7 separate regions of the Homo sapiens genome follow, and all the other regions are linked to region 2. The links come from fine-mapping of genetic effects on gene expression. A gene starts in region 2. Each other region holds a variant in brackets. All regions are shown on one strand. Distances are between the middles of the regions. Region 1 overlaps OSBPL5 (oxysterol binding protein like 5). Region 2 holds the start of OSBPL5 (oxysterol binding protein like 5). Region 3 overlaps OSBPL5 (oxysterol binding protein like 5). Region 4 has its middle 30 kb from the start of MRGPRE. Region 5 has its middle 32 kb from the start of ZNF195. Region 6 overlaps OSBPL5 (oxysterol binding protein like 5). Region 7 overlaps OSBPL5 (oxysterol binding protein like 5).

Region 1 (4,065 bases), 27 kb before region 2:
ACATCCGGCACAGATGCTTCTGCCTAAACCAGATAGATTCTCGTTCAAGACTGTGGAGGGGAAATGCTCTAAAATCACAAGGATAAAGGAACATAAGCCCAAATGCTTGGCTCTTCGCACATGGGATGGAGAGGTCAGTGGGTCCCAAGGAAGGACAGCAGCCATCAGTTAAAGGACAGCAGCCATCATGTCAACACCATACGTTTGCATTCCAGAAACTTGCTAAGGTCAATGCAAGTGACCATGAAGATCCTGCTGTGAGGAAACCACGCAGGCCTCCTGAGTCACCCCAGGGAGACCACCACAGCAACAGATGCACTCCCTGAGAGCAGACAGCAGCATAAGAGACCAGGCTGCTGTGTCTGGGTGGACCGAATGCCTAGTGCTAATGTGGGCAGCCTGACCACCCCTGCAGGAGCAGCAGCCTCTTCAGAGAGCCGTGGCATGCACTTCAGCTGTGGCAGCTGGGCCCTGGGGGGCTTGGGACATGCGCTTTCCCAGGACATCTGCTGCACTGATGGACCTTAAAGCCCCCAGGTCCTCCTGGATGTTCTGTCCCATCTGATATGATTCTCGGAATGCTCGCAAGGTGCGGGGAGCAGGGGAGCAGGGGTCATCATCACATTTTAAAGATGCAGTGGGCCGGGTGTACTGCACCTGGGATTACAAGCCTGTAATCCCAACACTTTGGGAGCCTGAGGCGGGTGGATCGCTTGAGCCTAGGAGATCGAGATCAGCCTGGGCAACATAGCGAGACCCTGTCTCTACAAACATAAAAACAGCCGGTTGTGGTGGCACATGCCTGTGGTCCCAGTTACTCAGGAGGCTGAGGTGGGAGGATTGCTTGAGCCTGGGAGGTCGAGGCTGCTATGAGCCATGGTCATGCCACTGCACTCAGCCTGGGTGACAAAGTGACACCCTCATCACACACAAACACACTGGGACCCCAAGAGGGGAAACGGCCCATCTAAGGTCTCGTGGGCCAGGCTGCGCCTGGGATCCCCTCAAAGGAGCACAGCTGAAGCCCCAAATCCCCTTTGCACTTTGGAGATAGCTGTGGAGCTGAGGGGGAGGCCAGGCCTCCCTCTGGGGAGACATTTATCAGAGGCAGCTGTGGAGTGGTTGAACCTCAAGAGGGGCACAGGAAGTGGCCTGCACTGCTGAGGACGCAGCATCGAGCCATGCCTGCGTGTTCTCCGGGCTGCCTCAGCCAAGTCCTGTGCCTGTGGGCCCGGCCAGGCCAGCCCGTCCCCGGCCCTGTCCACCTGTCCTCCTGATGGACACCAGGCCCACTGAAGGCTCAGAGCAGCTACTGGGTCAGCTGGCCTTGGTACCCCGACCCCACACCCCTGTAGTCGATCACTCCACCAGCCCTAAGAAGCCCTGGCATGGGGGCGGGCTGGGCGTGGTCCCTGAGGCAGGCCTGGCCCCACCACCTCCCAGCTAGACCCACCACCTCCCAGCTAGACCCACCCCACCTGTCCCAACTGAAAGGAGACTCCGATTTTCAGATGCTAGCTGCAGCCAGGTGGCAGCAGGGGTCAGCCGGGGAGGGAGGGGTAAGGGAGTGGGGGCCGTCACTTGGAGGCAGTGCAGCTGGAGGCAGGGGCCTGCTGGGATTGTGGACGCAATCTCAAACCCGCCACGCTGAGCCTCAGCATTCACACTGGAAATAAGACATGAACCTGGGCCCCCAGTGGAGCCTGGACACTCACTTCCAGAAAAGACGCTCGCCTGCCGTGCTGTGGGGCTGGCCTCTGTCCTGAATGCCCTCAGGCACACCTGGGGCCTCTTCTGGGTGGTGCCAGTGCCCCCTTGCCTGGCCCTCCTGGTGAGGCTCCTGGGCTTGGTGTGCCACCCCCAGTGGACGGCCCTGCAGGCCGCTGCCTACCCAGGTGGGGGACCAAGGGAGAAGCAGCTGGGCTGTGGCCGCCTAGGGACACGCGGCTGAGAAGCTGAGCACGTGGCTGTGTCTCCTCATCTGGCCCCAGCCTGCTCATCCTCCTAATTCCAGGGCAGCCTGGAGCCAGGCGTGTGGGCAAAAACTCCAACAAGAAGACCAGAGCAAAACAAAGAGGACGCGGCTGCTGTGGGCCAAGACTGAGGTCCGTCTCCGCCCTCCAGGGGCACCTGAGCTCCAAGGGCAGGGACCGGGTGATGGGTCTTCGCTGACACCGAGTGGGGATCCTGGGGTGCGAGCAGGCCCACACTCTCCCCCAAAACCCTCCAGCCTCAGTCTCCCCCACTGCCCACCCACACACCACCACAGCTGTTCCCGTTCAGGGGACCCTGGGGTGACCATGAGGCAGTGGGCCTGAGAGCCAGGGAGGTGGAAGCTTCCAGCCCTGGAGGAGCAGGTGGCCACCGGCCAGCTGAGTGAGCGGAGACCAGGAGGCTGTGCGGGACGGGTGGCCC[C/CA]GGGGCTGGGGCCGTGGCCAAGCCTGCTGGGGTCTGCCAGGGGCATCAGCTCTGAAGGTGCTGGCTGTGCTGTTGCCAGTGCTCTGTGGGGCCACGAGCAACCTGCCAGGATGATGGGGGAAGGAAGAGCCACCAGGCTGGGGCAGAGGTGGAGACAGACCCCAGTGATGGAGTTGAGCCCATTCTGGGAAAGGCAGGGAGGAGTGGCCTCCAGTGAGCTGGGGAAAGCCAGTGAGCAGGGGGCTTTAATCACCAGCCCAGGCACCCAGCCCTGCCCGCAGGAGTTTGGGGGCAGGATGGGGGTGGCAGGCCTTCCCCTGGCCTCTGGACAAGCCCCCGCCCCAGGGAGGCCTTGCTGCCTTGCTCTATGGGGAGGAGTCACTTCCAGAGGGCACATCCAGCCTCCCCTCCTCTCTCTCTGTCTCTCGGCTTCCCTCTCTGGGCTCCTGGACCCTGGGTCCAAGTGCTGCTTCCCCCGGCCTCTCTTCCTTCAGGCAGCCAGCCTTCCCTGCTGGAGTCCCCGAGGCCCAGCCACGCGCCCTGAAGGAGCACAAGCTCCTAGGGTGCGTTTACTCGCAGAGGCTGAAGCTGGTGGTGGGGTGGGGCGCTCACAGCCTGGCCTGTGGTTGGCCAAGGACACCAACAGGAGCTCTTCCCTGCAGCTCCTGGCAGGCCTGCAGAGGTGCCCCCCCTGCTCTGAGAAGCCAGCCTCACAAGATCATTCATCGCAAGCTCTGGGCCCACTGCTCGGCTGTGCAGCCTGGGAGGGGGGTGTGCAGTGGTCCGCCAAGCAGCACCTCTGCCAAGGAGCTCCCTCTGCAGAGGAGAACCCGGCCAAGGTCCCCCAAATTGCAGCCACCATCTCGGGCTGTATTAACAGAGGTTGAGTCCTCAGAAGGAGGGAGGGGATAATTGCAGTGGTGTCTCCCTGGCCAGGCTGCTGAGTTCAGCTCTGGAAGGGGCAGCCCACAGCAATGCTCTCTGTGAAGGGCCAGCATGGTGCCACCCAGGAGTGACACACACAGCCAAGCTCTCCCCTGTATCCCTCAGGTGCTGGACAGGCAGGGTAGGGCTCACAGCCAAGCTAGGACACCCTTCCCAGGGCCAAGGCAGCCCAGGAAAAGCCAGCACAGCGTGTCCTCCTGAGAGGCCTGTGTGGACACTCAGGGGTCCCAGTCTGAGGGGGAACACAAGGCCTTGACCTGGTAGCCCACTTTCAACACTCCGTGAGCACGCAGGGCCTCCCCCAGCAGAGAGGGGCACCGAGGGAAGCCAGGACCCCAGGCAGTGCCCTCTGTCCACCCAAGTACATGCTGCCCCACCAGTGGACAGGCATCGTCGTCCCGGCTCCCCTCTGTCCCCCAGCTCACATTACCCAGGACTGGCTGTAGGAGCCTTGTTTCCAAGACCAGAGAGGTCATAAGGTCACCTGCTGCCCACACGTCCCATCCTAGTCCTCCTTGGGGTATGTGGGTACCTGGGGCGGCCCCTCATGTCCAGGAGCTGAGGCTGCCCCTGGGTGTATCAAGGTGAGGTGCCTACCCCACCCCTACCCGCCCATGCAGAGCTGCAGCTGGTGCTCTGGTCAGCCCATGGGTGTGACAGCCCAGGGGGCCCTGGGGCCAGGTGACCACCTCAGAGCCACTCCTT
Region 2 (4,065 bases):
GCACCCCAGGCCAGCCCCACACGCGTGCAGGCAGACAATAGGATCTGCAGTTCTGGAGCCTGAGACCAGAAGGGAGCAGCTGGGCACATGATGCCACCCCAGGTTGCCACAAACCTGCCCGATGCCTGCAAAGCCCCCACTCACCTGGCAGGTTCAAGGAACAGCAAGGCCCTGTGTACCAAGGAGGTGGGATAAAAACGTGCAGAGGGGCCTTACTCCTGGGGTTGGGGAGCAGAGTTTCTGTTCAGTCTGGGATCTGGATCAGCCCTGGTGCAGGCAGACCCAAGAGCATCTATCTAGGATCCCAAAGGCTGGCCCACTTCTCCAGGCTTTGGGAGGCTGTATCAGGTGGGGTGGGACCCTTACAGAAGTCTTCCTGTAAAAGGCACCTTGAAGAGACTGGGGCAGACACACAGAGGGGAGCAAGTTGCGAAACGGCAAGAGAGGAAATCCACCCAGCCGCTTCGGCGGGGCAGACCCGCTCAGCCCAAGGATGAGGGAGGGGCTGGGCTCAGCCCAGGGACGAGGGAGGGGCAGGTAAGCCCACCCTGTGACCCCTCCATACCCCCAGGAGTCACCCCAAACCCTAACTCCAGTTGGCTTCTGACAGGAGGCAGCCCAGCGGTCTGGGTGGGGGTTGGGGGCGGTGCCTGGGAAGCCCAGGACGGGCCTGTTGCCCGGGGGGCTGCAGACTCCAGCCTCCTTCCTGCCTGCCCCACCCTCCTGCACCCCGCTCCCCGGGAGGAATCTTCAAGTGCACAAGACCCTCTTGAGGACTCAGGCACCTCAACAATCCCTAAGGCTCCACATCTTCAGGGGGTCAGTGCCCCAGAGATGGGGGCTGTGGGCAAGGTCCTTCCCTAGCCTGTAATCCAGGCAGCCCCCTGACTCTGCGGACTCAGACACAGCAGTCCTCCCAAGCCCGCAGCTGGGACGCCAGACTCAGATCCCAGACCCCCTGCAGACCCATCAAGACCTGGCTCCTTGGAGCCCGCGTCGGCCGAGCTGGGGGGACAGACCCCCTGATTGGCCAGGGTTTGTGGTGGTCAGACCCAGCCACCTTCCCTGGCGGTCCCGGCTCCTTTAAGCCCCACCAAGTGGGGAGCCGAGCTGGGCGCGCCGCTTCCCACTCGCGGGCCCCACCCGCCCCAACCCGCCAGGCGCCGACCCGTCCTGGCCCGGGGCGCCCCCAGGCTCCCGCGCTCCCCAGCTCCCCAGCGCGCGACCGGCCCCGCGGCGTGGTTCCCCGCACTGGCTACTGCCAGGGTCCGCGGGGCTGCGGCGCGAGCTCCTGGATCCCTTCGGCCGGCCCCCCGCGGCCCTCGGTTCGCTCCGGCCCTGCCCGGCGGGGCCCTCCGGATCCTTCCCAGCCCGCCATCCCCCCGCCGCCCTGCCGCCCCCCGGGCCGCCGCGCTCCTACCTCCTACCGTGCCGCGAGCTCGGTGCTCCGGGCCGGCCGGGCGCGCGGGGGCTCCACTGGCGGCGCGGGCCTGGCTGCAGGAAATGCCAGCAGATGGTCCCCCCGCGCGAGGCGGAGCGAGGGCGCGGCGGAGGGAGGAGGCCCAGGGAGCCCGGAGGCGGGAGGAGGAGGCGCGGCGGCCGCAAAACCCGGGCCGAATCGCCGCGCGGAGCGGGCGCCCAGGGGCTGCCCCCCACCGGCTGCCGCTTCTCCTCATCCCCCAACCCCCCGCGCGCGCTCCGGGGCTCACACCCACCCGGGCGGCCAGAGGTCGGGACACTCCGCTGAAAATGGCCAGGAGGCTTGGCGGGGTGGGCAGCGGTGAGTGGGGTCAGCTTCGTGGGGTTCTCCAACTTAGGGGTGCAGGCCCCCAGCCCACCCTAGCCAGGGTGCGAGGCGCCTCCTCTCCCTTCCTGAACCCAGGAAACTGTCGCCGTTTCTCCCCGTCTCAGGAGCCATCAGAACACAAGAGGAGCCCCAGACATCTGAGCCCGTTGTCCCTGCCCCTTATGTGCTAAGAAGGACCCTCAGTCACACTCTAACTGTACGTCTTTCTCAGGACCCTTTTGACAAGAACCTCCCCTCATGTGCATTTCTTCCTGTGTTTTCTCCTCACCTTCTTCTACCCCCCAGAGACCTTTTTAGACCCCTCAGTTCTCTTGTATATAAAAGACATTCTAATTCCCCTAAACAGCATCCCCTTGGGAGCTGAGAAGTCCTCCCCTGGCCCCTGGCTCCCTGCCTGTAGACCCTAAATTGGGTGTGGGCCCAGGGCTGGCCCCAGGGCGTTTGCATCCCTAGTGTCCAAGCCTGAGGTGCACTGCAGGTCCTTCCTATGGTATGTCCCCAAATGACCAGAAAAACTGGGAGCTGGGCTCGGGCATCCCCAGATGTAGGTAGACCCCAAGAGGGCGTGGAGTCTTTTCCACACAGAACCTTAACAGGGACAGAACTGACCCTCCGCAGAGAGCCCTGGGCTCCTCCCCAGGCAGAACTGCCACTGACACGTGTGTTTCTACGGTTTCACGCTGCAGTTGCATTCGGGAGGCCGCAAGCCTGGCTATCATGGGCGTCTGCAAGACCTCCCAGCAGGGCTGCGGAGGGCGAGCGGCCCAGGAAGGCTCCTTCCAGCACCTGAAGGGGGAACGGCACAGCATGCAGGTGCTCTGCCCACAACAAGCCAGACCCCTTCCCGTCTCAGCCCTGGCCTTGCCCACCCCGTTAGACAAGTTGGTGGGTATCCTCCTGGGGATAGCAGCACCAGCCGCTTGTGTGCGGATCACAGGAACCCACGGCTTACGGAGGCGAGTGGGCTGATCGGACTTGCCCTAAGCTTACCCCCAGGGCTAGCATTGCCATTCCATAGTCACCTTGTGAGGCCTTGGGATGCAGAACTGCTCAGTCAAGATGCTCAGGGCCATGGTGGGACCCTGCTCCGCGTGGCCTGTGGCAGGCGGCCTCTGCCTCTGCAGGAGAGGGTCTGTGCAGCTGGGATCCACATACAACTGCTGGGTCTGCTCTTTGAAGACTCCGCCCAAAGCTGAGGTGCTGCTGCCTGGTAACTTGCTGGTTGCTGGAGCCAATCCAAAGGGAATTAGGGAAGAAAACAAAGCCCCTATCCCTAGGGCGGAGGTCTCAGGGGCGGCAGTAGGGAAGGTTGCCAGTTGCTTGATGCTGGCTGTCCAGGGCCTGGGTTTCATGAAATGACACTGCTGAGGGCAGAGGTCAAAAGTCAAAGAGGCACCTGAGGGTGGGGGAAGGGGCCATAGATGACAGCAGGGTGGGGCTGGGGTGGAGCAGGACGAGGGTTGAGCCTCTCACTGGGTAGTGTCTGACAGCCAGATGGCCATGCAAGAAATGAAGAACACGCCACCTGCCAGGCTCAGTGACAGGTGTCAGTTGTCTGCCCCACTTCCCAGCAGGCTCTGCATTTTTCCAGAAAGCCCCATTTCCAGCCTCTTGCCTGGTTTTGGAGAGGCAGTGAGCCGAAGAGGTTGCCCCCAGCAAGAGGTAGGTCCGAATCCTGCTGCTGCCAGAAAGAAGCTCTGTCACCAGGCAGTGGCTTGTTCCTCCTGGGACCCCGCTTCCTCTCCTGTCAGATGGACACAGCATCTGTGCCTGGTGGCCAACGCAGGAAATGAAGGCGTCAGAGGTCTCAGAGATGGGCAGAGCCAGGTGCCAATGGCACCAGCTTTAGGGGGGCACGCCCAGTAGGCCCCACCATCCAGGAGCCCTTGAGCAGGTTTGTGCAACTGGCCGTGCCTCAGTTTCCTCATCTATAAATGGCGATGACCAGAGCAGTTTCCGCTGCATGAGCTGCCATAAGTCCCCAGTGGGCCAACAGACTTTGCAAGCGCTGGCTGTTGGTGGGCACTGGGGACCATGAGTGGACTATGGGAAGGAACGGCTTGCAGCGCCCAGCTGGTTAGTTTGGAATTTATGGTAATTCAGAAAAATATGTCTGTGATAAGTAAGAACTTAAAAAATGCTTTGCAAGGACAGTGCAATTTAAAATCAGGGCAGTTCCAATCCAAGTCTCCAGAATGGCAGTTCTCTGCTAGGGGCGGTTTTGCCTCCAGTTTCCAGGTGGCATTTGCCACTGCCTG
Region 3 (4,065 bases), 52 kb before region 2:
GGGAGAAAAACGGCCAGCAAAAGGAAAAAAAAAAGAGGAAAGATTTTGATTTTGACTACTAAGGGGCTTTATTCATATAACAAGGCCACATTTTCACTAGCTAGGCCAAACTGAAAGAGTAATGACTGTACTTCTGTGTCCTCGTTGAAATTTGTCCTAGTTGAAATATGGAATGAGATTTAAAAAGATTTTTTCAAAGAAGCTCAATGGTTAAAAGTCAGTTTAATGAAAAGCTAACATCCAAGCTGTGTGTGTGTGTGTGCATATGTGTGCGCGCATGTGTGTGCATGTGTGTGTGTGTGCGCGCATGTGTGTGCATGTGTGTGTATGTGTGCGCGCATGTGTGTGCATGTGTATGTGTGTGTGCATGTGTGTGTGCATGTGTGTGTGCATATGTGTGTGTGCATGTGTGTGTGTGCGCATATGTGTGTGTTTGTATTTAAGAGACCTTCATGTTTCTGTTTTTGTTTTTCTCCTAGGACCTTGTCTTTTTTTGAGCAAAAGGGTTTTTTCTTCTCAGTTGACTGAATTCTGTTTCTTGATTTACTTCTGCTGTCTCTCCTTTCTCTTGCACCTTCTGCCGCATGGGGGACCTAAAATAGTTTATAGTAGCCTGGGGTTCCTTAAAGAAAATGGAGAGGGTGCCAGACTCCCCTTGGGGGAGAAACTTGTTTTTTCTTATGAAACCCCAAGAATGTAAACAGACAAGTTTGTCTCAGCTCTTAAACTGCTTACTTTTGTATTGTGTAACCTGTTTTGTGTTTTCTTTTCTTTTTTTTTTTTTTTTTGACTAAAGTAGTTATTGCAACAGTGGTTACTCTTGGGCTTTTAAGGAAGAGTGTGGTTTAGACACTTAGAAATGTCTTTGTTTAAAAAAAATTTGTAAGTGCACTATAAAAGCATCACGTGGTCTAACCTCATGATAATTCTCCCTTTCTGGAGACCTAGGATTCAGTGTGGGCTCTTCCCAGAGCTCAGAGATCCAGTTAAATGATAGGTAGTCCCTACTACATAAAATTGGTCTCCTTATGCAATCCTATGATAGATTTCTATAATTTTGTTTGATTTGGCATCCATCTTTAGTCTCCCTCTAGCACCACCAGACTTTTTCTCTCTGTACCTTATGCAAATTTTGCTATTTGATTTTCACCTGAGTTGTTTCCCTTAATATGCAAATTTAAGGCTATTTAGCTGACAATTGCCTAGGGTTGTGAAACAGGTTATCAAGAATCTGAAAGTCTAAGACAGGAAAAAAAAATTTTTATAAACCTATGAGATGTACTTCTATTGCCATGCCTAATATGTCTATGTATTTATGTGTCGTGTACACAATGTTTCACTACTGAAAATATATAAAAGGGCTCTAATTGATTGGCTTAAGAAAGTAAATGCACTTGAATCAAATACTTGATCAGGAAAAAAGAAAAGACAAGTCAAATGCTTTTTCAAGTTTATGTAACTTAAATAAAATCTTTAATAAATAAGCTAGCTTTAAAATTATTGGTAAAGTAATATTAGAAATGTCTTAAGAATTGCCAGCATATATTTTTGTTTGCATTTATTAATCAAGCAATTTCATACTTATCCCTGCCAAATACCAT[G/A]AGGTGTCAAAATTTGGCATAGGAGTTACGAAACTATAAACCCAGCCCAAGACAGAATGATCTTTGCTTGTGTAATCTTTAATAATGCCTGTAATCTCAGCACTTTGGGAGGCTGAGGTGGGTGGATCACAAAGTCAGGAGTTCAAGACCAGTCTGGCCAACATAGTGAAACCCCATCTCTACTAAAAATACAAAAATTAGCCAGGTGTGTTGGCAGGCACCTGTAATCCCAGCTACTCGTGAGGCTGAGGCAGGAGAATTGCTTGACCTGGGAGGCAGAGGTAACAGTGAGCCAAGATCGCACCACTGCACTCCAGCCTGGGAGACTAGAGCAAGACTCCGTCTCAAAAAAAAAAAAATTTATATTGGTTTAATAAAAATAGCTACATCTTAAATTTAGTAAGATTACCATAACTTCTAATCTGGTGGCTTTAGGTAGTCTAGTCCACAGGCAGTAAGGTTCATTTTGAGAAAGACTGTTATAGTCTTTGTTTCAGGTAAACTATAAACTAAGTTCCTCCCAAAGTTAGTTTGACCTATGCCCAGGAATGAACAAGGATAGCTTGAAGGTTAGAAACAAGATGGAGTCAGTTAGGTCAAATCTCTTTCACTGTCTCAGTTATAATTTTGCAATGGTGTTTCCATAATTTAAATAATGACAATTGCAGTTTTTATAAATAATCTAGGTAAATGATTAAAATAATTAGGTAAATGTAATAGGACAAATACTTGTAGACAAATTCATCATAATTTAGAATTTAAAGTTAGATTAAATAAGATATTTCACTATTTGGATATTTTCCAATAAAAATATATTTGTAGGAAAATATGCTTTCTAAAAGAAAGCATGTCCTTTTGAAAAAGGTGAACAATTTTTGCCTAATTCAAAGCTTATTTAAAGATCATGTATAAAACAAGGTAAAAGGAACCAGGAAATAAAAGAGTAAAAGAGATGTAAAGAAAGTTATAAAAAAGTGTTTTTTGGTGGAGAGTAAGAAAGCTTAAAGAGAAATAATTTCATATGAGAAAGAATCTTGTATGGTAAATTTAGTCCTAGAGTAAAATGACTGGTTGTTTAAGAAAGAGGGATGTTCAGGACAAACCAGAAAGTCCAAGCGTGGCATGAATGGTCTATGGAAGTCACAATAAGAGGATCTATTAAAAAAAAACCCTTTTATATGATCAAGTTGTCTATGACTAAAGGGAAATTATAATGGTCTTTCTAGAGATTGGGTTTGATGTAAAAAAACAGTTATAGACTAAAGAATTGGTTAGAACAATGATTTTTTTTTTTTTTTTTTTTTTTTTTAGACAGAGTCTCGCTCTGTTGCCCAGGCTGGAGTGCAGTGGCGTGATCTTGGCTCACTGCAAGCTCCACCTCCTGGGTTCACGCCATTCTCCTGCCCCAGCCTCCTGAGTAGCTGGGACTACAGGCGCCCGCCACCACGCCTGGCTAATTTTTTTTTGTATTTTTAGTAGAGATGGGGTTTCACCATGTTAGCCAGGATGGTCTTGATCTCCTGACTTCGTGATCCTCCTGCCTCGGCCTCCCAAAAGTGCTGGGATTACAGGCATGAGCCACCGCACCTGGCCGACATTTTCTTAAGAGGTTGATTTACTCTTAATCAATTATAAGATATTTTAATTTTTTAATTTTAACCCAAAGTTCAACTTTCATTGCATCTTGCCAGTTTCAGTTTTCTCTTCCCTCTTAAAAGGAACAAAATAGTAACACTTCCCTTCAACTCATTTTCAGCTCATATAAGTTTTGTTTTCCTCCTCAGGTTCTGTTTTTTTGTGTGTGTGTGGCCTGATGCTAACAATGTTTTCTTAAAGAAAATGTTTTCTTCTAACATAATATTCTATACACTGCAGAAGGTATTTGCTTTTGCCTTTTGGTAAGTGGCCTAACAGATTTTATGTTTTATCAAAATAATTCCTATGCCATTATTATTAAGTTTGGTTTGCTTAGGAAAAACAGATATTAAAATTTTTTTTAAATCAAGGTTATTCCGTCCTTATATCTTCTTGTATGTGCTTTTAAAGTCCTTGCGACATTGAGTTACAGGGATTTGACTCATGGGTCTAAAAAGAACACCAAGTCCTGCTAAATTTTAAACACTGACAGCAATTAAAGCTTCATCTTCAGGCCCGGTAGAAGATGCCAATCAAAATAAACCACATTCCTGAGACACAGAAATTAAAGCTGTTCAACTCCTCAAGGCCCAGAGACTATCCCAGAAGAGATAGACATGTGAGATTGTAAGGGCTGACTTTGAGAGATAAAGTAAGTTCAGTTCCTCTATAAATTAATCATTAATGTCAAAGGCACACTGATGCAAGACTAGCATATGGGCCCCTGTGTCAGATTAACAAGGTTTTCTTGAAACAATAACTGACTCCTTAATAAAGGTTATAAAGGCTTATGGAAGTTATATCTTATGATCAAGATGAAAATTTTATA
Region 4 (4,065 bases), 97 kb after region 2:
CTGTGGAACAAGAAAGGGAAGCTTAAATATGATGAATACCTGTTGCCATCGTGCCTGAAGTATCGATGAAGTCTAATCTTGCTTTGGGTTTTGACTCAAAGCAACTGGAATATTCAACTGCTTTATAAGCTAGTGAAAGTGGGCTGCGTAGATGCGATTACAGGTTAAGGTTGTAAGAACAATCAGGACCTCAGAAGAGATTCCTTTTCCCAGTTACTCAGAATCTACATAGATGAAGTTTTAAAAAGCCTGTTAAATGTAGATATTCGCTTGGCTGTGGGAGAGGAGGGTAATTGGCTTGCAATTTGTTTTATCATGACATTTCCACTCTGGCCTTCCATTCCCCAGAAACTGAACTCAGTGACGCTCTTGGAAGAAGTGACCTCATCATGACAAAATCCAATCCCTTATGCACCACCAGCTCAACCATAAACCCAGGAGTCATCCCTAATTCGCTTTTTTCCTTGCCCTTTGTGCCACAAAGCCATTTTGTCTCCACCTCTAAACTTCTCTCCAGCCCCCTTTTCCCTTCTGATGCACGGGCACCCATTTCTCCCTAGACTGCCTTCTTCAGTGTTCCTAAACAGCAGATACCTAGTTCACAGGCCTGCTTACACAATGGTCTCCTAATGTTATTCTTCACACAAATGTGTTTTTAAAGTCTGTGAGAGAGGCCGGGCACAGAGGTTCACGCCTATAATCCCAGCTCTATGGGAGGCCAAGGCAGGTGGATCCCCTGAGGTCAGGAGTTCAAGACTAGCTGGGCCAACATGCCGAAATCCCGTCTCTACTAAAAATACAAAACTTAGCTGGGCGTGGTGGCAGGCACCTCTCATCCCAGCTACTTGGGAGGCTAAGGCAGGAGAATTGCTTGAGCCCTGGAGATACAGGTTGCCGTGAGCCAAGATCGCACGATTGCACTCCAGCCTGGGTGATAAGAGTGAAACTCCATCTCAAAAATAAATAAATAAATAAATAAATAAATAAAGTCTATGAGAGAAATTTGATTAGCCACTCTTTCACAAAGTATGAAGAAGAAACTGTGAGACAAACTAAATAAGAAAATGATGCTATTAAGAAATACTATTGGAATGATTGACCAATTCCTTGTCTGTGTCAGGTTTTGTGTATAAGGCATGTCTCTCCCTTTAAGGAGTCTGCAATCGTGTTACTGGGGAAATGACTTACTAGAATGCAAGCAAAACAGATTATAATATAAGATACTCAAAACCGGGTGTCAGTTATGTAAAAAATAACCTATATGTGGTGGTCCATTTTTAATTTTAAGTGTCTTAGTATAGGTTTAAGCAGGCTATGTGGAAATAAAGAGATAAAGAAGCAGAATGTACTGAGCCACCCCTGCCCCCATCCTGCTTTCTCCTTTCACTTGGCAGCCAGGTGCCTATCGGTCAGGGCCCCCTTAAATACCCCCTCCCCACCCCACCGAAGAATTTAGTTTAGGCTAGCTTGCAACATAGATAATTTTATCCTTTCTTATCAGCAAAGCACAGCCATCTAGGGCCATACGTCAAATGTTCGAAGAGTCCTGAGACAGTCACAATGCATTATGGGATGCAATAAAATGCAGCAGAAAGACCCTAATGAACATACTCGAAAACTTAATCCAACTACCAATATTCGACGTCCAGGAAGATTGTAACCTCGTAGTACTCAGCCAATGAGGAACTGGGGGAGGGACTTGTGCACTAGGGAGTAAATTTCTTGTTGAAGCCCTTCTGGGTGTGCCTCATGCCAGACACCCAATCTTGCAAGACTGCCATTAAAGTCTCGCTTCTTCTGTTCTCTGTGTCCCTGAGTCCATTCTTTGGGTTTGGATGGATAAGGATGTTTCTTACAAGTTAGAAAGAAATTTCTCAATAAGACTCTGAGAGCTTCCTGCTATAGTGCTGGAATTGACATGAGGGTGATTTTGTTTTTTTATTTTAATTTATCTTAAATTAATTAATTTCTTTCTACAAGGGTGATTTTGAAGTCTCCTCACTGCCGATGGTTTTGTGGAAACTGCACAGCGAGGAGGGTAGAGATCTTACTCCTGAAGAGCTGGGAGTCCGGGCTTTGAGGCAGATTCTGTGTTTCTTCAGTGTGTATGTCCTGAGGAATTAGCCACCCATCTGCCACAGGGCCCTGGGGGAGAACGCTACCATGTCTGAAAATGCCAAGGTGGCTGTCCCGTGGAGTTAGCTGTTGTTATCGTCTGTGCTTCGTGATAGCAGGAAGCTTTTTCCCCACTGTGCCCTGCAGCCTCTCCACCTCCTTCCCTTCTCCATTAGTCATGTGAAGACAGAGG[G/A]AGCAGGAGGGAAGTTGCCCCAGAGTCCAAGGCAAAGTGCATCAAACAGCCCCGGGTAGTCGTGTTCAGTTTAACTCTGCAGTTATTCCTGAAGTCTTAAGAACTGAATCCTGATACTGCTTTTCCCGTCTTCTTCAGATTCACTCCTGCCCCAGTTCTCTTTGTTGCTGAGAAAATGTCTTCCTCTGCTCTGTAGGATAATATAATACGTTTCTGAGAAAAGGAGCCGTGTCCTTCAGGAGAGGGGTAAATTACAAACGTTACAAGAGATTCGTACATGTTTCATCTCCCCTTTCTTATGGTCACTCAGTAAAATGAGATAACAGTCATGAAAGTTCTGTTATGTGCTCTGCCTAAACCACTGGCCAATTCAGCCCCAACCAGCCCAACTTAAGCTATTGAAGTGGGAAGATTTGGGAGACTGTTTCAATATCCTTATTTGAGTCAGCCTGTTTTTCTGTGGGCCAGAATAGGACATCACAACATGAGATTCAGCTTCTAGACAGGCAGGACGTGTCCTCCATGGATCCCAGCTCCCACAGCCAGGTCCTGTTCCCACTGTGGCTTGGGAGGACATCCCAGAAGCAGAGCCCACGTAGGCCTCCAGCACCCAGCAAACTGCAGGACAAGCTTGGTTGCAGAGTGAGTCAGGCCTTCTTAAACCCCTGCTCTTCCTGACTTGGGCTTCAGGAGACAGGACATGGTTTTGGAAGAGCCATGAAGAGCCACAGTACTGCTGAGTGGAAACAGCCTTCTTCTCTGGCTTAAGGGGAAACCAAGAAGCTTTTTGCTCTGGCTGGCTGGGAGGGCAGGGGGTTGCTGATGCCTGGACACTTCACGGAGGGACACACCCTGGGGGCCTCAGCCCCACTGAAGAGCCGCCTCCATAGACCGTGGCTGTAGACTGGGTCCTGGAGCCACTGGGTCCTGGAGCCACCAGCTCCTGTCCACATGGGGTCTGCAAAGGGAAGCTCCAAGCCCAAGCTGATGGAGAGGCAGAGCCTCAGTCCATCTCAGGGTTTCCAGACCTTTGTGATGAAGCAAAGCTTTTCCCAAACATGATTTCACCCCAAACCCCAAAGTGTACAAGCAGATAAGCACAGAAAGCTATTGTAAAAGTCAGAAAAGGAGGAGGGCTGTGAGAGGGGCTGACGGTCCCCTCCAAATTCTGCCATTGCAGCCTCGACCCTCAGGCCCTCAGAACATGACTGCATCTGAAGAGGCGATTCAAGGTAGAGGACACTATCAGGGGGCCCTCTGTGCCTGTCTCTGCCCTAATTTCCTCTTTTTAAAATTATTATTATTATACTTTAAGTTCTGGGCTACATGTGGAGAATGTGCAAGTTTGTTACATGGGTATACATGCGCCATGGTAGTTTGCTGCACCCATCAACCCATCATCTACATTAGGTATTTCTCCTAATGCTATCCCTCCCCTAGCCCCCCACCCCCTGACAGGGCCCAGCATGTGATGTTTCCCTCCCTGTGTCCATGTGTTCTCATTGTTCGACTCCCACTTATGAGTGAGAACATGTGTTTAGTCTTCTGTTCCTGTGTTAGTTTGCTGAGAGTGATGGTTTCCAGCTTCATCCATGTCCCTGCAAAGGACATGAACTCATCCTTTTTTATGGCTGCATAGTATTCCATGGTGTAGATGTGCCACATTTTCTTTATCCAGTCTATCATTGATGGGTATTTTGGTTGGTCCCAAGTCTTTGCTATTGTGAATAGTGCTACAATAAACATATGTGTGTATG
Region 5 (4,065 bases), 180 kb after region 2:
CTTTGATTGGAGTTGGAGGCACTCATGTGGGGTGAGTCTGCCTTGACGCAGTGGTTGCTCCCCATCACTGGGCTTCTCCAGCTCCCTCTCTGAGAATCTGGTGCATGCCACTCAGAACAAATACCCTCATCTCTATAAGATGCCCTCTCCTGAGCATAGTGGAGAGGTTTTATAATGTGAGGGTGAAACCTTTCAAAGTAGAAACCTGTGATTTCTTTCCATTTGGACAATTATAAGGACTTTAAGACCCTTTCTGCTTTGGGTAAATCAACCATCTGCACAAGACACGTTTTACAGAACAAAGGACAATAGAGTCCTCATTCACATCCTGGTCATGTCACTCCTGGTGACTCCGCATTGCAAACATCCCAGCAGGGTGCAGTTCTTTTCTCTCCCATCCGATGGGCTTCTGGGGCCCCATCACTCTGATTGGACACGGACTCCCTGGAGGCAGCTCCCAAGAGCAGAAGACACAGATGACTCAGAAGTTCCTAGAAAGTCATCAAACCAGATGACACAGAACTCAAATGACATTTCACTTCGTTTTGTATGAGACAAGGTCTCACTCTGTTGACAAGGCTGTAGTGCAGTGGGGCGATCCTGGCTCACTGCAACCCTCACCTCCTGGGGCCAAGCGATCGTCCCACCTCAGCCTCTCAAGTAGCTGGGACTACAGGCGCTCGCTGCCACGTCTAATTGTTTGAATTTTTTGTAGAGATGGGGTTTTGCTATGATGCCCAGGCTGGTCTCAGATTCCTGGACTCAAGCGATCTGCCCACCTTGGGCCCCGAAAGTGCTGGGATTATGGGCGTGAGCTGTGTTATTTCATGCCCCGTGACAGCCCAACGAAAAGGAAGGAACCCCGCGGGTCCATAGTGTACTCACGTGGCTGGACTGATGGCTGGGAAACCCCAGCACGAGGAACCAAAAGAGCAGCCACCGCAGCCGCATGTCCTGGTCCTCTCAGGGCGCCCTGAGGTGGCCAGGGCACAGGTGGGGGTGGCTTAGGGCTGGGGGAGGGAAGGGGATAGGGATGGGGATGGGGATGGGATCGCAGTTGGGGAAGGGAAGGGAGAGGAGAGGAGGGGAGGGGACTGAAGGGGGGCTGTTGGGCACCTGGAGGAGGAGGAGGTGGAGGAGAAAGGGGTCTGGGAAAGGAACCAGTTCAAACTAAGTCCTCAAGCCCTGGTGGGAGGTTCAGCTACAGGTCAGTGGGACAGTCGATCAGCAGAGCAGCAGGACGCATGGGGTAGAGTAGCGGGAGGCTCCGGAGCAGTTGGAGGGAGACCAGGGCTCTGGTTTCCACCAAACCAGCTCCTGTCTGGGAGCTGCGTCAGCAACCCTGGGGCTTTATCCTCCCTCTCCACCAATCCCCGGCCCTGGTGGGTGGTGCCTCACAGTGGACATTCCTGGAGGTGCCCGTTTTCTTCCAACATCCCTCCGCTCCCCGACCTGGGCTGGGCAAAACAGAGACCTCATCTCTACAAAATTTTAAAAGTTAGCCAGGCATGGTGGCATGCAGCTCTGGTCCCAGCTACTCAGAAGGCTGAGGTGGGAGGATTACGTCAGCCTCACAAAGGAAGACTCTGCTTGAAATAAAAGAAATTAAATTAAGTAAAACACAAATAAAAAGAAAGATATTCTTTATTCACAAATTGGTAGAATTAATATTGTGAAAATGTC[T/G]ATCTTACATAAAATGATCTACAGGTGTAATGCAATCCCTATCAAACTACCAGTGACATTCTCCACATACAAAAGGAATACCCCAATTCATCTTGTCCCACAAAAGAAAACCATCAATAGTCAAAATAATTGAGTATAAAAAAAGGGCAAAGCTGAAGGCATCACAGAATCTGCCTTTGAAATATACTACAAAGCCACAATAAGCAAAACTGTATGGTACTGGCATAAAAAGACACATAGGCCAATAGAGCAGAATAGAGATCCCAGAAATAAATCCATGCATTTACAGCTAACTGAGGTGACAAGAACGTACAATGGTTAAAGGACAAACTCTTTAATACATGGTGCTGGGGAAAAAAATGGACATCCACATACAGAACAAAGAAGTGAGACCCACATCTCACACCACATATAAAAAGCAACTTGAAATAAAGACTTGAATGTAGTATCTGAAAGTCTGAAACTACTACAAGAGAACATAAGGGAAAAGAAAATACGATATTGGTTTGGGCAATTATTTTTTGAATTTAACCTCCAAATGCCAGGAAATAGAAGTAAATGTAGACAAATGAGATTACTTCAAACTAAAAAGCTTCTGCACAGCACCACGTACAATCAATGGAATGATAACCTAGGAATGGAAAAATATTTTAAAATTATAAATCTGACAAGGGGTTAATATCCAAAATATGTAAGAGACTCAGCTGTACAACGAAAACAAGTAAGTACTAAAAATGAGGAAAAAACTTAGACATTTCTCAGAAGACATACGTATAACAAATAGATAAATTTGAAAATGCTAAACATAAATAATTATCCAGGAAAAGCAAATCAAAACCACTGTGAGACACCAACTCACTCCTTTCAGAATGACTATTAATAAAAAGACAAAAAAACAAAAACAAAAACAAAAACAAACCAAGGGTTGATAAAGGTGTGAAGAAAGAGAAGGCTTGCACATTGTTGATGGGAATGTATATTGGTACAGCCATTCTGGAAAACAGAATGAAGATTTCAAAAAAATTAAAAATGGAGCCACCATTTGTTACAGCAATCACACTACTGTTTATATATATATTTTTAAGGACATCAGTGTGTTGAAGAGACATTTCCATGCCCATGTTTACTGCAGCACTATTTACTATAGTCATGATATAAAAATCACCCCAAATGTACCGAAATCATGAATTCTGTGACAAATCCCTTCATTTCCAATCACACGGATGAACCTGAAACACATTATGTTAATTTACAGAAACCAGGTGTAGAAGGAAATATACCATATGTTCTCATATGTGACATCTAAACAAGTTCACCTGTTAAAGTAGAGAGTAGAATTATGGTTACCAGAGGCAGGGGTTTTTAGGAGGGCAGAGGGTTTGGGGAGTTGATTGTCAAATTAAGACATGATTACAGTGAGATAGGATGACTAAATTTGAGAGATTTATTGTACAGCATGTTGACTATACTTAACAAGGATGTATTGTGTTTTTAAAAATGAGAAGACAGTCAAATGTTTAGTTCTTACCACATAAAAAATTATATGGGGTAAAGCATATGATAATTAACTAGAATAAAGCACTTGACACGTATATACCTCAAAACATCATATTTTACATGATATATACACTTTTATGTCAATTAAAAGAATAAATAAACATTATAGAAGGCTAGCAATGTTCCAAATAATGAAGTCTCTTTCTTAGTCATAAGCTGAGCTAAACAGTATCAAAAATATATAGTTTTTGTGAAGGTTTGGGTTTGTTCTCTTGTTTGTTTTGTTTTTTGTTGCCCAGGCTGGAATGCAGTGGCACAATCTCATCTCACTGCAACCTCTGCCTCCCAGGTTCAAGTGATTCTCGTGGCTCAGCCTCCTGAGTAACTGGGCGTATAAGCACGCACCACCACACCTGGCTAATATTTGTATTTTTAGTAGAGATGGGGATTTTGCCATGTTGGCCAGGCTGGTCTCAAACTCCCAGTCTCAAATGATCCACCCTCCTCGGCCTCCCAAAGTGCTGGGATTACAGGCATGAGCCACCGCACCCGGCCTCGTGAAGTGTTTGTTCTACCCTTTGTCAGCCATAAGCATAGAAACTCTGTATTTTTACAGCACTTGCAGGACCCAGCACAGAGCACAGGAAAGGGCAGGCGCCTTTAACCCAAGGACTCCTAGAGTTTCTGGTACTCATGTTGATGGAATGGAAAATACTAAAGACGCAGGTGGCATTAACAGTCCCACCACTAGCTACGCTATGAACACAGAAAACAGGTTTACATTCCAACTCACAGGCAAATATTTAAATTCAGAAGCTGCCAGGACTCCAGAGATTTATCTAGAAACAATGACCAATGAGTTAGATACAGCTAGGTAGCTAAGAC
Region 6 (4,065 bases), 35 kb before region 2:
GGTCCCCCAGGCAGGTGCCTGCCCCTACCTCCTACTCTCAGGGGAACAGGGGAGGAAGGGCTGGGTTTTCTGGGGGACAGCAGTCACAGCTCAGCCTTGGCTGGGGCAGGGGTTGTGCATAGTTAGGTGCCAGGGAGGGGCCTGGAGAGTGGCAGCATTGGCGGGCAGAGGTTCTGAGTCTGTGTGCTGGGTGCTTTATCTACAATTGCACGAAGGCAGGCCTGGTTCCAGCTGTCCCCTCTCAGAGCCCAGGACCCATGTATAGCTGGGAGTAGGTACTAATATTGTCCCATTTTATAGATCAGTCAACTGAGGCCTAGAGAGGTCAAGTAGCTGGCCTGGGGTTACCCTGCCAGGACTGGGGCTCAGGCCACCTGTCCCTGGAGCCTGCACTCCATAACTCCCAAAGCCTGGGCTGACTTTGGGATGACTGCACTCCATAACTCCCAAAGCCTGGGCTGTGGGAACCCCCTCCTCAACCAGATGGGCTTCACCTGGCCCCGCAGGTCAAGCCAAGAAGCCGTATTACCTGGCACTCTACCAAGCTACAAACCGTTTGATCATGAAACCCACACAGTCCCCAGCATGGAAGCTGTGGACCTCAAGGGGCACAGAGGGGTTGGGCCGCCCGGGGTCACCCCACCGGGCCCAAGCTGAGGGCCAGGTTGCCCTGCCCACGGCCGGCACTTACCTGGGCTGAGTGGGTAGAGCTCATTGTCTCCGCTGAGGAGCAAGTTCCGGGTGAGCTTCCGGGGGTCGACTTTCTGAGGGGTGGAGGAAGGTGGACACAGGGAGAAGCGGCGCCGGAGGAAGGCCTCCTCCTTCATGCTGTGGGCGCTCGGGGGCTTCTGGAAGGAAGGAAGGAGGGGCAGCAGGAGGTCACCGCCCCGGAAGGGGCTTCAGAGCCACATGGTGGGGGTGCCCCTGGCTAAGAAGTCCCCCTCTCAGGGGACTTCTGAGGCAGGGTGAGGAGGGCCTGGGCCCTGGGAGCCTGGTGGTGGGTGGTCAGCCAGGACAGCCCAGCTCAGGCGAATGGCTTTGGCTGGTGCCAGCCCTTTCCACGCCGGGCAGTAGGGCTGGACGGAGCCCTGGTCAGAGAGGCTCATCACCACCCTCGGAAGATGTCCTTCTCAGAACCCCCACCCCAGGTTCTGTGAGACCCTGGCTGCAGCCAGGCAGACCCACGTGTAGACACAGGTTTTCCCTCCCGCATTTCCCTCCCACGTGACAGCACTTTGTGGTGGGGAGGGGTCTAGAGCTTCCATGGAGAAGATGCACGGGGGTGAGACCAGGTGGCCGCTGAGCACCAGGGAGTGGCTGGCACGGTGTTGGGCAGTCCGGGAGCCTGGCCTGCCATCCATCTAAGGGTCCCAGGAGCGCCTCGCCTCTGGTTAAGCCCGCCTGAAGCTTGGGTGCCCCAACAGTTTCAGTTGCACCCACATGCACCCCAGCAAGAGAGGGAGCTCTGGGCGCTCACAGCCAGGCACACCTGCGTCCACGCCCAGCCCAAGACGTTGCATTCCCAGTGGGAGCTTCCTTGCTGCTTCACAAAAGAGGGAGGCCCCACAGCCAGGCCCTGACACCCACCTGCCTCGCTCTCCCAGCCCCGCCCACTGGCAGACCTGCCTTTCCCCTGTGGGTTCAGAAGCGAGTTTCTTGTTTCCTCCCCTGGAAGGAGAGAGGACAACAGGCGGTCCCCTCTGTCCTGCTCCCCACCAGCCCTACACCTAGTAGTGCTGGGCCAAGCAGAGGGTAACTGATTGCAGTCACGCCTTTGCAGGCACTTGAAGTTGACGGCGCCAGATCCACTGAGGTCTCAGCCCATTTTACAGATGAGAAAATCATGGCTCAGGGAGTGGAAGGCCTCGACCTGTAATCGTGACCTGACAAGGGTTGGCAGAGCATCCCCTCCAGCTTCTCATCTTGTGTCCACTTCCCAAGGGCGAGCTCCTTAAAAACTACTGGTCAATTTTCCTCCTTTCCCAATTTTCTGGGGCTGCTTCCTGCTGCCTCAGGGCAGGCCAGTGGCATCCTGCCAAGCCCGGGACAAAGGCCTCGATTTCTCCCAT[G/A]GTCCTGGGCTTTGCTGGGGGGGGCCTCAGACACACAGAGACTTTCCTGCTGTGGCTTCAGGAGTGGGCTGGGGGCCCAGGGTGTCTGTGGTCCTGGGGGCTTCTGTCCACCACCCCAGAGCCCCCTCTGTGCCCCCAGTCCTGAAGTCAGAGTGGGGAGGGGCTCCAAGGATGCAGCCAGGCTGGGCCAGCCCCTCCCTCACCTGGCCCCTGGCTCGGCTCATGACCTTGGCCATCTTACACACAGGGCAGCTGGCTTCAGAGAGGCTGGCGTTTTGGCCCAGGTCACAGAGCTAACAATCAGCAATGCCGTCCTTAAGCCAGGTGGAACCGATCCTAAAACCCAGCCGCTGAGTGTCTGCCCACTCAGTGTCTCAGCTTGGCTCAGCCAACCTGCCGCAGGGAAGCAGGCAGATGGGAAGTCCTGCCCCTACTTGTCAATCACAACAAACACGTCCTACTTGCCCAGGTGCAGCTCAGGATGGGAACCAGCAGCTGAGCGGAGGCCGGGCTTACTCAGACAGCTGAGATTTTCTGAGCACCCAGGCTGGGCTGGGCACCAGGCAGCCAAGGTAAGTGAGCAGCGATCCTGCTCTCAGGACCCACAGAGAGCCCCGGAATGTCCCAGGCAGTGTGGTGACAGCGATTCCCAGGTAGGTCTCCCTCACTTGGAACCTCCTGGGGCAGGGAGAGGGGCTCAAAACCTAGCCTCAGCTGCCCTGTCTGGCTGTCTGCTCCAGTTCCACCTGGGCCAAGGTAGAAAGGCCATAGGGGATCTTGGTACCTTTCTGCTCAGATACCCCACATACCTTCTCCCAGCACCAATGACAGCCAGTGGGACTTCTTAGTCTGTGAGTGCCACCATCCACTCATCTATACACCAGTCTCATCTATACACCAGTCTCCCGCTCCCTTGTATCCCTCCATCTATACATACATACATCTCCCTTCCAGGCATCCATCCATCCATCCATCCACCCACCCACCCATTCATCCATCCATCCATCCATCCATCTACTGTCATCCCATCTATCCATCAATCCATCCATCCATCCATCTACCCATTCATCCATCCACCCATTCGTCCATCCATCCATCCATCTACCATCCTCCCATCTATCCATCCATCCACCCATTCATCCATCCATCCATCCATCCACCCACCCATTCATTCATCCATCCATCCATCCATCCACCCATTCATCCATCCATCCACCCATTCATCCATCTGTCTATTCATCCACCCGTCTATTCATCCATCCATCTACTGTCCTCCCATCCATCCATCCACCCACCCACCCATTCATCTATCCATCCATCCATCCATCCATCCATCCATCCATCCTCCCAGGCATCCATCCATCCATCCACCATCTTCCCATCCATCCATCCATCCATCCACCTACCCATTCATTCATCCATCCATCCATCCATCTACCCACTCATCTATCCATCCACCCACCAAACCATCCATCCATCCATCCATCCACCCATCCACCCACCCTCCCTCCCTTTCAGGCATCCATCCATCCTCCTGTCCATCCATCCATCCATCCATCCATCCATCCATCCATCCATCCATCCACCCACCCATCCACCCACCCTCCCTCCCTTTCAGGCATCCATCCATCCATCCATCCATCCATCCATCCATCCATCCATTCACCCACCTGCCACCCCTCTATCCCTCCTTGAAGCTCTCCAGCCAGTCAGCTGACCTGCCTGATTCCACCTTCCTTCCCATTCACCTCACACTCAGACACATCTGAGGTGGTATTCAAATAATGTCTGAAACACTGATATGGAACAGACACTCACCAATCCAAATGCAATACAGGTGTGTACCAGGGACTATCACTCTGTGTGCCAACAACCCCAGACCAGTGTCCAGTGCCCCGGGCCCTGCAGACCACCTCTGACCCGCTCAGACAGGGTGGGCGGCAGCTCTCATCACAAGGCATCCTGGTCTGTGGAGCCCTTCTGGAGCCCCCCATCC
Region 7 (4,065 bases), 78 kb before region 2:
TGACCCTGGGCAACATAGTCAGACTCCTGTCTCTAAAAAAAAATGAGCTAGACATGGTGGTGTGTGTCTGTAGTCCCAGCTATTCTGGAGGCTGAGGCAGGAGGATTGCTTGAGCCTGGGAGGTCGAGGCTGCAGTGAGCTTCGATCAGACTACAGCACTCCAGCCCGGGTGGCAGAGTGAGACCTTGTCTCAAAAATAAGTTAAAAAATAAACAGTTCTTAGTAAGATAGAGGGAGAATTCTGGAGGGGATTCCATTCTTGCCCCTGTGTGTGTGAAGGTGCTGGGGTGCAGGTGGAGGGCCTGCCCTGTGGTGAGCTGGAGCTGGTGGGAGGCAGACCCCTGGGTAGGCTGTCTCTGGGCAGGGCACCTGGCTGAGCACGTTTGCTCCGCGTGGGCCTGGGGTGCAGGAGGCAAGATAGGGGTCCCAGGCGGGGTGTCTGGAACAGCCTGCCCCGCCATCAAGATGCAGAAGGCTGTCACCCCCAGGGCTCACACTCTGAGCTCATGTTTGCCCCATGGTGTGTGGCCTCCACAGAGGGGCACTGGAGCCAGGCAGGGCCCCCCGCCCCATCCTCCAGGTGGTTCGGGGGGGTCTTGGGAGTCCTGGCTGTCTGAGGCGGACATGAGGCTCCTCAGAGGAGCTGGGGGGCAGGACCCCCTGCCTCTCCCTCCACCCCAGCCACAGCCCCTCCTCTCCTGGGGCCTTGGGGGTCGAGGTGGGGAGGTGCAGAAGGGAGGTGGTGACCCGAGGCCCCTCGTGTCCCCCTCTCCTGGGTGCTGCCTGGCTGCCCTCCCTTTCATCACCCTTGTCCTCTGGTTGCTGTGAGGGGTGGGCTGCAGTCTCCCTCTGCTGTCACTTGAGGCCTGTGGTCAGGTGCCCCCACCCCGCCTTCAGGGGCACCCTGAGCAGGCCCACTCACTGGCCTTGGTGTCTGAGTACCAGGGGTGGTGGCCACAGTGGAACCGAAGCAAGGGGCAGCGGGCCAGGTGGTCCAGCCAGGGGGGGTCCCCTTCAGTAACTGGCAGCATTGGCCTCAGGGGCTGTGCCAATGCCCCCCAGCAGCCTCTGAGGTGCCTGGAGTGCCTGTGGGCAGTGTCACTCTGTGTCCCCCACTGGCTCATTGGGTGATGGGACGCCAGCCTCCCAGCATTTGCTCCACAGGGCGGGCAGGCTGCCCACAGCTCCCTGTGAACTCTGCACCCTCCTCCCTCCCGGGCCCCTCCACCCAGCCCCACACAGCTCCATGCTGGCCTTGAGTCTTCCTGGGAAGCCCTCCTCTCGTTTCCAGAAGTCCCGCAAGAAGAGAACACGTATGTGTCTGTTTATTTCAAGGTGTGGAACACAGACACATCCCCAGATGGGGGAGGAGGGGAGACAAGGACACGGGTACAAAAACTGGAAACAAAGCCACCCGCTACAGCTCAGACGGCACCGCCACGATGTGGTTTAAGGCTCTGTACGTATATATATGTGTAGAGGCTCACACACGCGCACACGCACACGCAGAGCGGCACTGACACGGGGACTGAGGCCAGACGTGAAGGCTGACTGCAGCTCGCAGCCCACCTAAAATATTGCAATTATGTTTATTAAAAAAGTGTAAAATGGGAAGACTGTGCATCGGTCTGAGTAAAGTGGCGAACTTGAGCCTCCCCGGCCTGGGTGCGGGGCCAGCTAAGCCACACCCCTGCGCCCCCCACACCCCTGCACACACCTGCACCCACAACCACCTCCACCTGCGTGTGCCCCCACCAGAGCGAGCGTCCAGGTGTGGGGGTGGGGTGGTTCCAGGACCTGCCTCTGTGGGGCTCCCATCCAAACAGCACAGCGTGGAATAAAAAACCAAAATGCCTTCCCCAGAGTGGCCCTAACCTGTCCCTGGCACCCACCAGTGGCCCCACCAGGGTGGTCCCGGCAATGTGGACAGGGTCTCCGGAAGGCAGGCCTATGCATCTGTGTGTGGGGGGACTCCTGGGCCACTCGG[G/GGCTCCCTGGCT]GCTCCTCCAAACCTGCCCACTCACTGCTGCTGGGGTGTGACTGTCCAGGGCCCCCACAGGCCCTCCCACCCTAAATCCATCCATCCCCCATGGCAAGTGGAGGCCGGACAGGGGGTGACACGGCAAGATGGCCAGGAGTGCGTCGCACAGCAGAAGCTGCATTTGGCTTTAGCATTAAGGCCAGCGCTGGGCGGAAGGCCCTGCAGAGAGGCCAGTGCCCCTGAGAGGGGCCCAGCACACCTGGGCCCGCAGCGCCTTGTGGCCCCGGGTCCCTCCTGCGCCTGGACTCCCCGTCACAGTGGCTGTGCTTGCCGGGCCTCTCTGCCTCCATGGAGCAGGCTTAAAGTGCTGGGTGCCTGGGAGGGAGGGCTCAGGACCGGCCAGGAGCTCTGCCCTCAGGGCTCCTATTTGAGGATGTGGTTAATGAACAGCTGACACGCCAGGAACACGCAGAGCAGGAACCAGGATCGGGGGCTCTGCAGGAGGCCTGGGGTCGGTGCCTGTGCTGCCCGTGCCGTGGAGCTCAGCATGGCCGAGAGGTGCCTGCAAGGACAGGCGACAGATCGTGGGGGCTGTGCCAATGCCAGCAAGTCCCCCTCCCACAAGCCAGGACAGTGCCCTGGGTACTTGACCAGGTGCTGGACACAGGGCCGAGGTGGAGATGGGATGGCCCTCCAGGGGCAACAGAGCGGGTGGGGGTGGAAAGCTTGTTAGTGGGAGGGCCCCACAGCACCATGGCTATACTGGGATTCCCTGGGCACATTCAGGGCAGAGGAGGGTCAGGGATTGGGGAGTCAGCCTTTTACATCCTCCCTCCCACCCCTGTGGTTATGGCTGAGTCATGCCTCTGCCACCTTCATATGTTGGAGTCCTAACCCCTTGCACCTTAGATAAGACTGTATTTGGAGATGGGGTCCTTAAAGAGGTATTTATTTAAATGGAGACCATTAGGGTGGGCCCTGGTCCCATGGGACTGGTGTCCTTATATGAAGAAGAGATGAAGACACAGACACAGCGAGAAGCTGGCGTCTGCCAGGCAGGAGAGAGGTCTCGGGATAAACCAGCCCTGTGGCACCGAGATCTTGGACTCCAGCCTCCGGGACCGCGAGGGAGTAGACGCGCTGTCCGAGCCCCTTGCCGGCAGTACTCTGCTGTGGAGGCCCTGGCCCTGAGCTGGAGTACTTTGCCGTGGAGGACCTGGCCTCTGAGGCGGTATCCAGTTTGCTGCAGAAGCTTCTGGCTGAGTCCTGGCCACCTGCCTGACAGCTGACCTGCTTCTGGGGAGCCAGGCCTCCCTGCTTCTCTGCCCACACAGCCTCACCAGGGAGCACCTTCTGGAAATGCTTACACAGGGACAATGACAGTTCCCCAAGGCTCTTGAGCCTCACAGAGCCCGGGCCTGTGCCCTGGCTGCATTTCACCCTGGGGTACTGCTATCAAGCCCACTTTACAGAGGGGAGGCTGAGGTGTGACAGCCAAGGTCCCACAGCCAGTGAGACCCTCAGCCTGGCTCAGAGTCAGGAGCTTTGGACCCGAGAGGGACCCTGTGCTCTGCTCCTCATTGGTGGGATCTGCTGACAGGAAGGGGCCATGTGGCCCTGGTGGCCTGCACCTGCCAGCTCTCGGCCACTCCCATTTGCTCCTTCCCCAGCCATTCCTGAGAAGCCACTGTGCGCAGGTATGGGGCCACCACAGTGAGCCCAGGCTGCCACCTCGCTCTGCACACCTCAAGGTCTCTCCTGGGGCTACCCCAGGCCATGCTGGGCTGGCACCTTCCTCTAGGCTTCAGGACATCTCCAGCTCAGTATCTGCCAGGCATGGCCAACTTGGCTGGTTGATCATCCCGCACCACCTGCCGCTCCCACACCCTCTCTCCTGCCCTCGGCGGTTGTCTTCCTTTCATCACCCTGCAGGTCTTGTGGGTTCCAGCTCCGATGACAACCCCAGCCGCGGCCTCCTGGCCTCCCCACCTCCCGCCCTAGCTCTACCAGGTCTCTCGCACTCTCTGACCCGGAGTCTGGATGGACACCCTGAGTGTGGCCCACCTGTGCAGCTCCTGCTGGGCCTCTCGGATGGA

The links.
Region 1: its variant is fine-mapped to the expression of OSBPL5 in whole blood (TOPMed, PIP above 0.99).
Region 3: its variant is fine-mapped to the expression of OSBPL5 in monocytes (TOPMed, PIP above 0.99).
Region 4: its variant is fine-mapped to the expression of OSBPL5 in whole blood (INTERVAL, PIP above 0.99).
Region 5: its variant is fine-mapped to the expression of OSBPL5 in left ventricle (GTEx, PIP 0.96).
Region 6: its variant is fine-mapped to the expression of OSBPL5 in whole blood (INTERVAL, PIP 0.99).
Region 7: its variant is fine-mapped to the expression of OSBPL5 in tibial nerve (GTEx, PIP 0.98).

What each region holds. Positions count from the first base shown.
Region 1 is chr11:3,136,882-3,140,946 of GRCh38, forward strand. All of the region lies in intron 1 of OSBPL5 (oxysterol binding protein like 5), which reads right to left. Among named protein-coding and RNA genes, the nearest start is that of OSBPL5, 26 kb to the right of the region's middle. RefSeq lists an enhancer at 1-50. The variant C/CA (reference allele first, on the strand shown) is at 2,416.
Region 2 is chr11:3,163,796-3,167,860 of GRCh38, forward strand. OSBPL5 (oxysterol binding protein like 5) reads right to left here and starts at 1,515. Exons shown (of 22, transcript NM_020896.4): 1 at 1,421-1,515. RefSeq lists enhancers at 1-253, 1,997-2,709.
Region 3 is chr11:3,111,708-3,115,772 of GRCh38, forward strand. The region is part of intron 7 of OSBPL5 (oxysterol binding protein like 5); the gene reads right to left. Among named protein-coding and RNA genes, the nearest start is that of OSBPL5, 52 kb to the right of the region's middle. The variant G/A (reference allele first, on the strand shown) is at 1,602.
Region 4 is chr11:3,260,448-3,264,512 of GRCh38, forward strand. No RefSeq gene overlaps it. Among named protein-coding and RNA genes, the nearest start is that of MRGPRE, 30 kb to the left of the region's middle. The variant G/A (reference allele first, on the strand shown) is at 2,309.
Region 5 is chr11:3,345,438-3,349,502 of GRCh38, forward strand. It overlaps the pseudogene VN1R56P. Among named protein-coding and RNA genes, the nearest start is that of ZNF195, 32 kb to the right of the region's middle. The variant T/G (reference allele first, on the strand shown) is at 1,684.
Region 6 is chr11:3,128,322-3,132,386 of GRCh38, forward strand. OSBPL5 (oxysterol binding protein like 5) reads right to left here. Exons shown (of 22, transcript NM_020896.4): 2 at 692-848. The coding sequence starts at 827. Among named protein-coding and RNA genes, the nearest start is that of OSBPL5, 35 kb to the right of the region's middle. The variant G/A (reference allele first, on the strand shown) is at 2,070.
Region 7 is chr11:3,085,813-3,089,877 of GRCh38, forward strand. It overlaps OSBPL5 (oxysterol binding protein like 5), which reads right to left. Exons shown (of 22, transcript NM_020896.4): 21 at 4,034-4,065; 22 at 1,295-2,531. The coding sequence ends at 2,393. Among named protein-coding and RNA genes, the nearest start is that of CARS1, 30 kb to the left of the region's middle. The variant G/GGCTCCCTGGCT (reference allele first, on the strand shown) is at 1,988.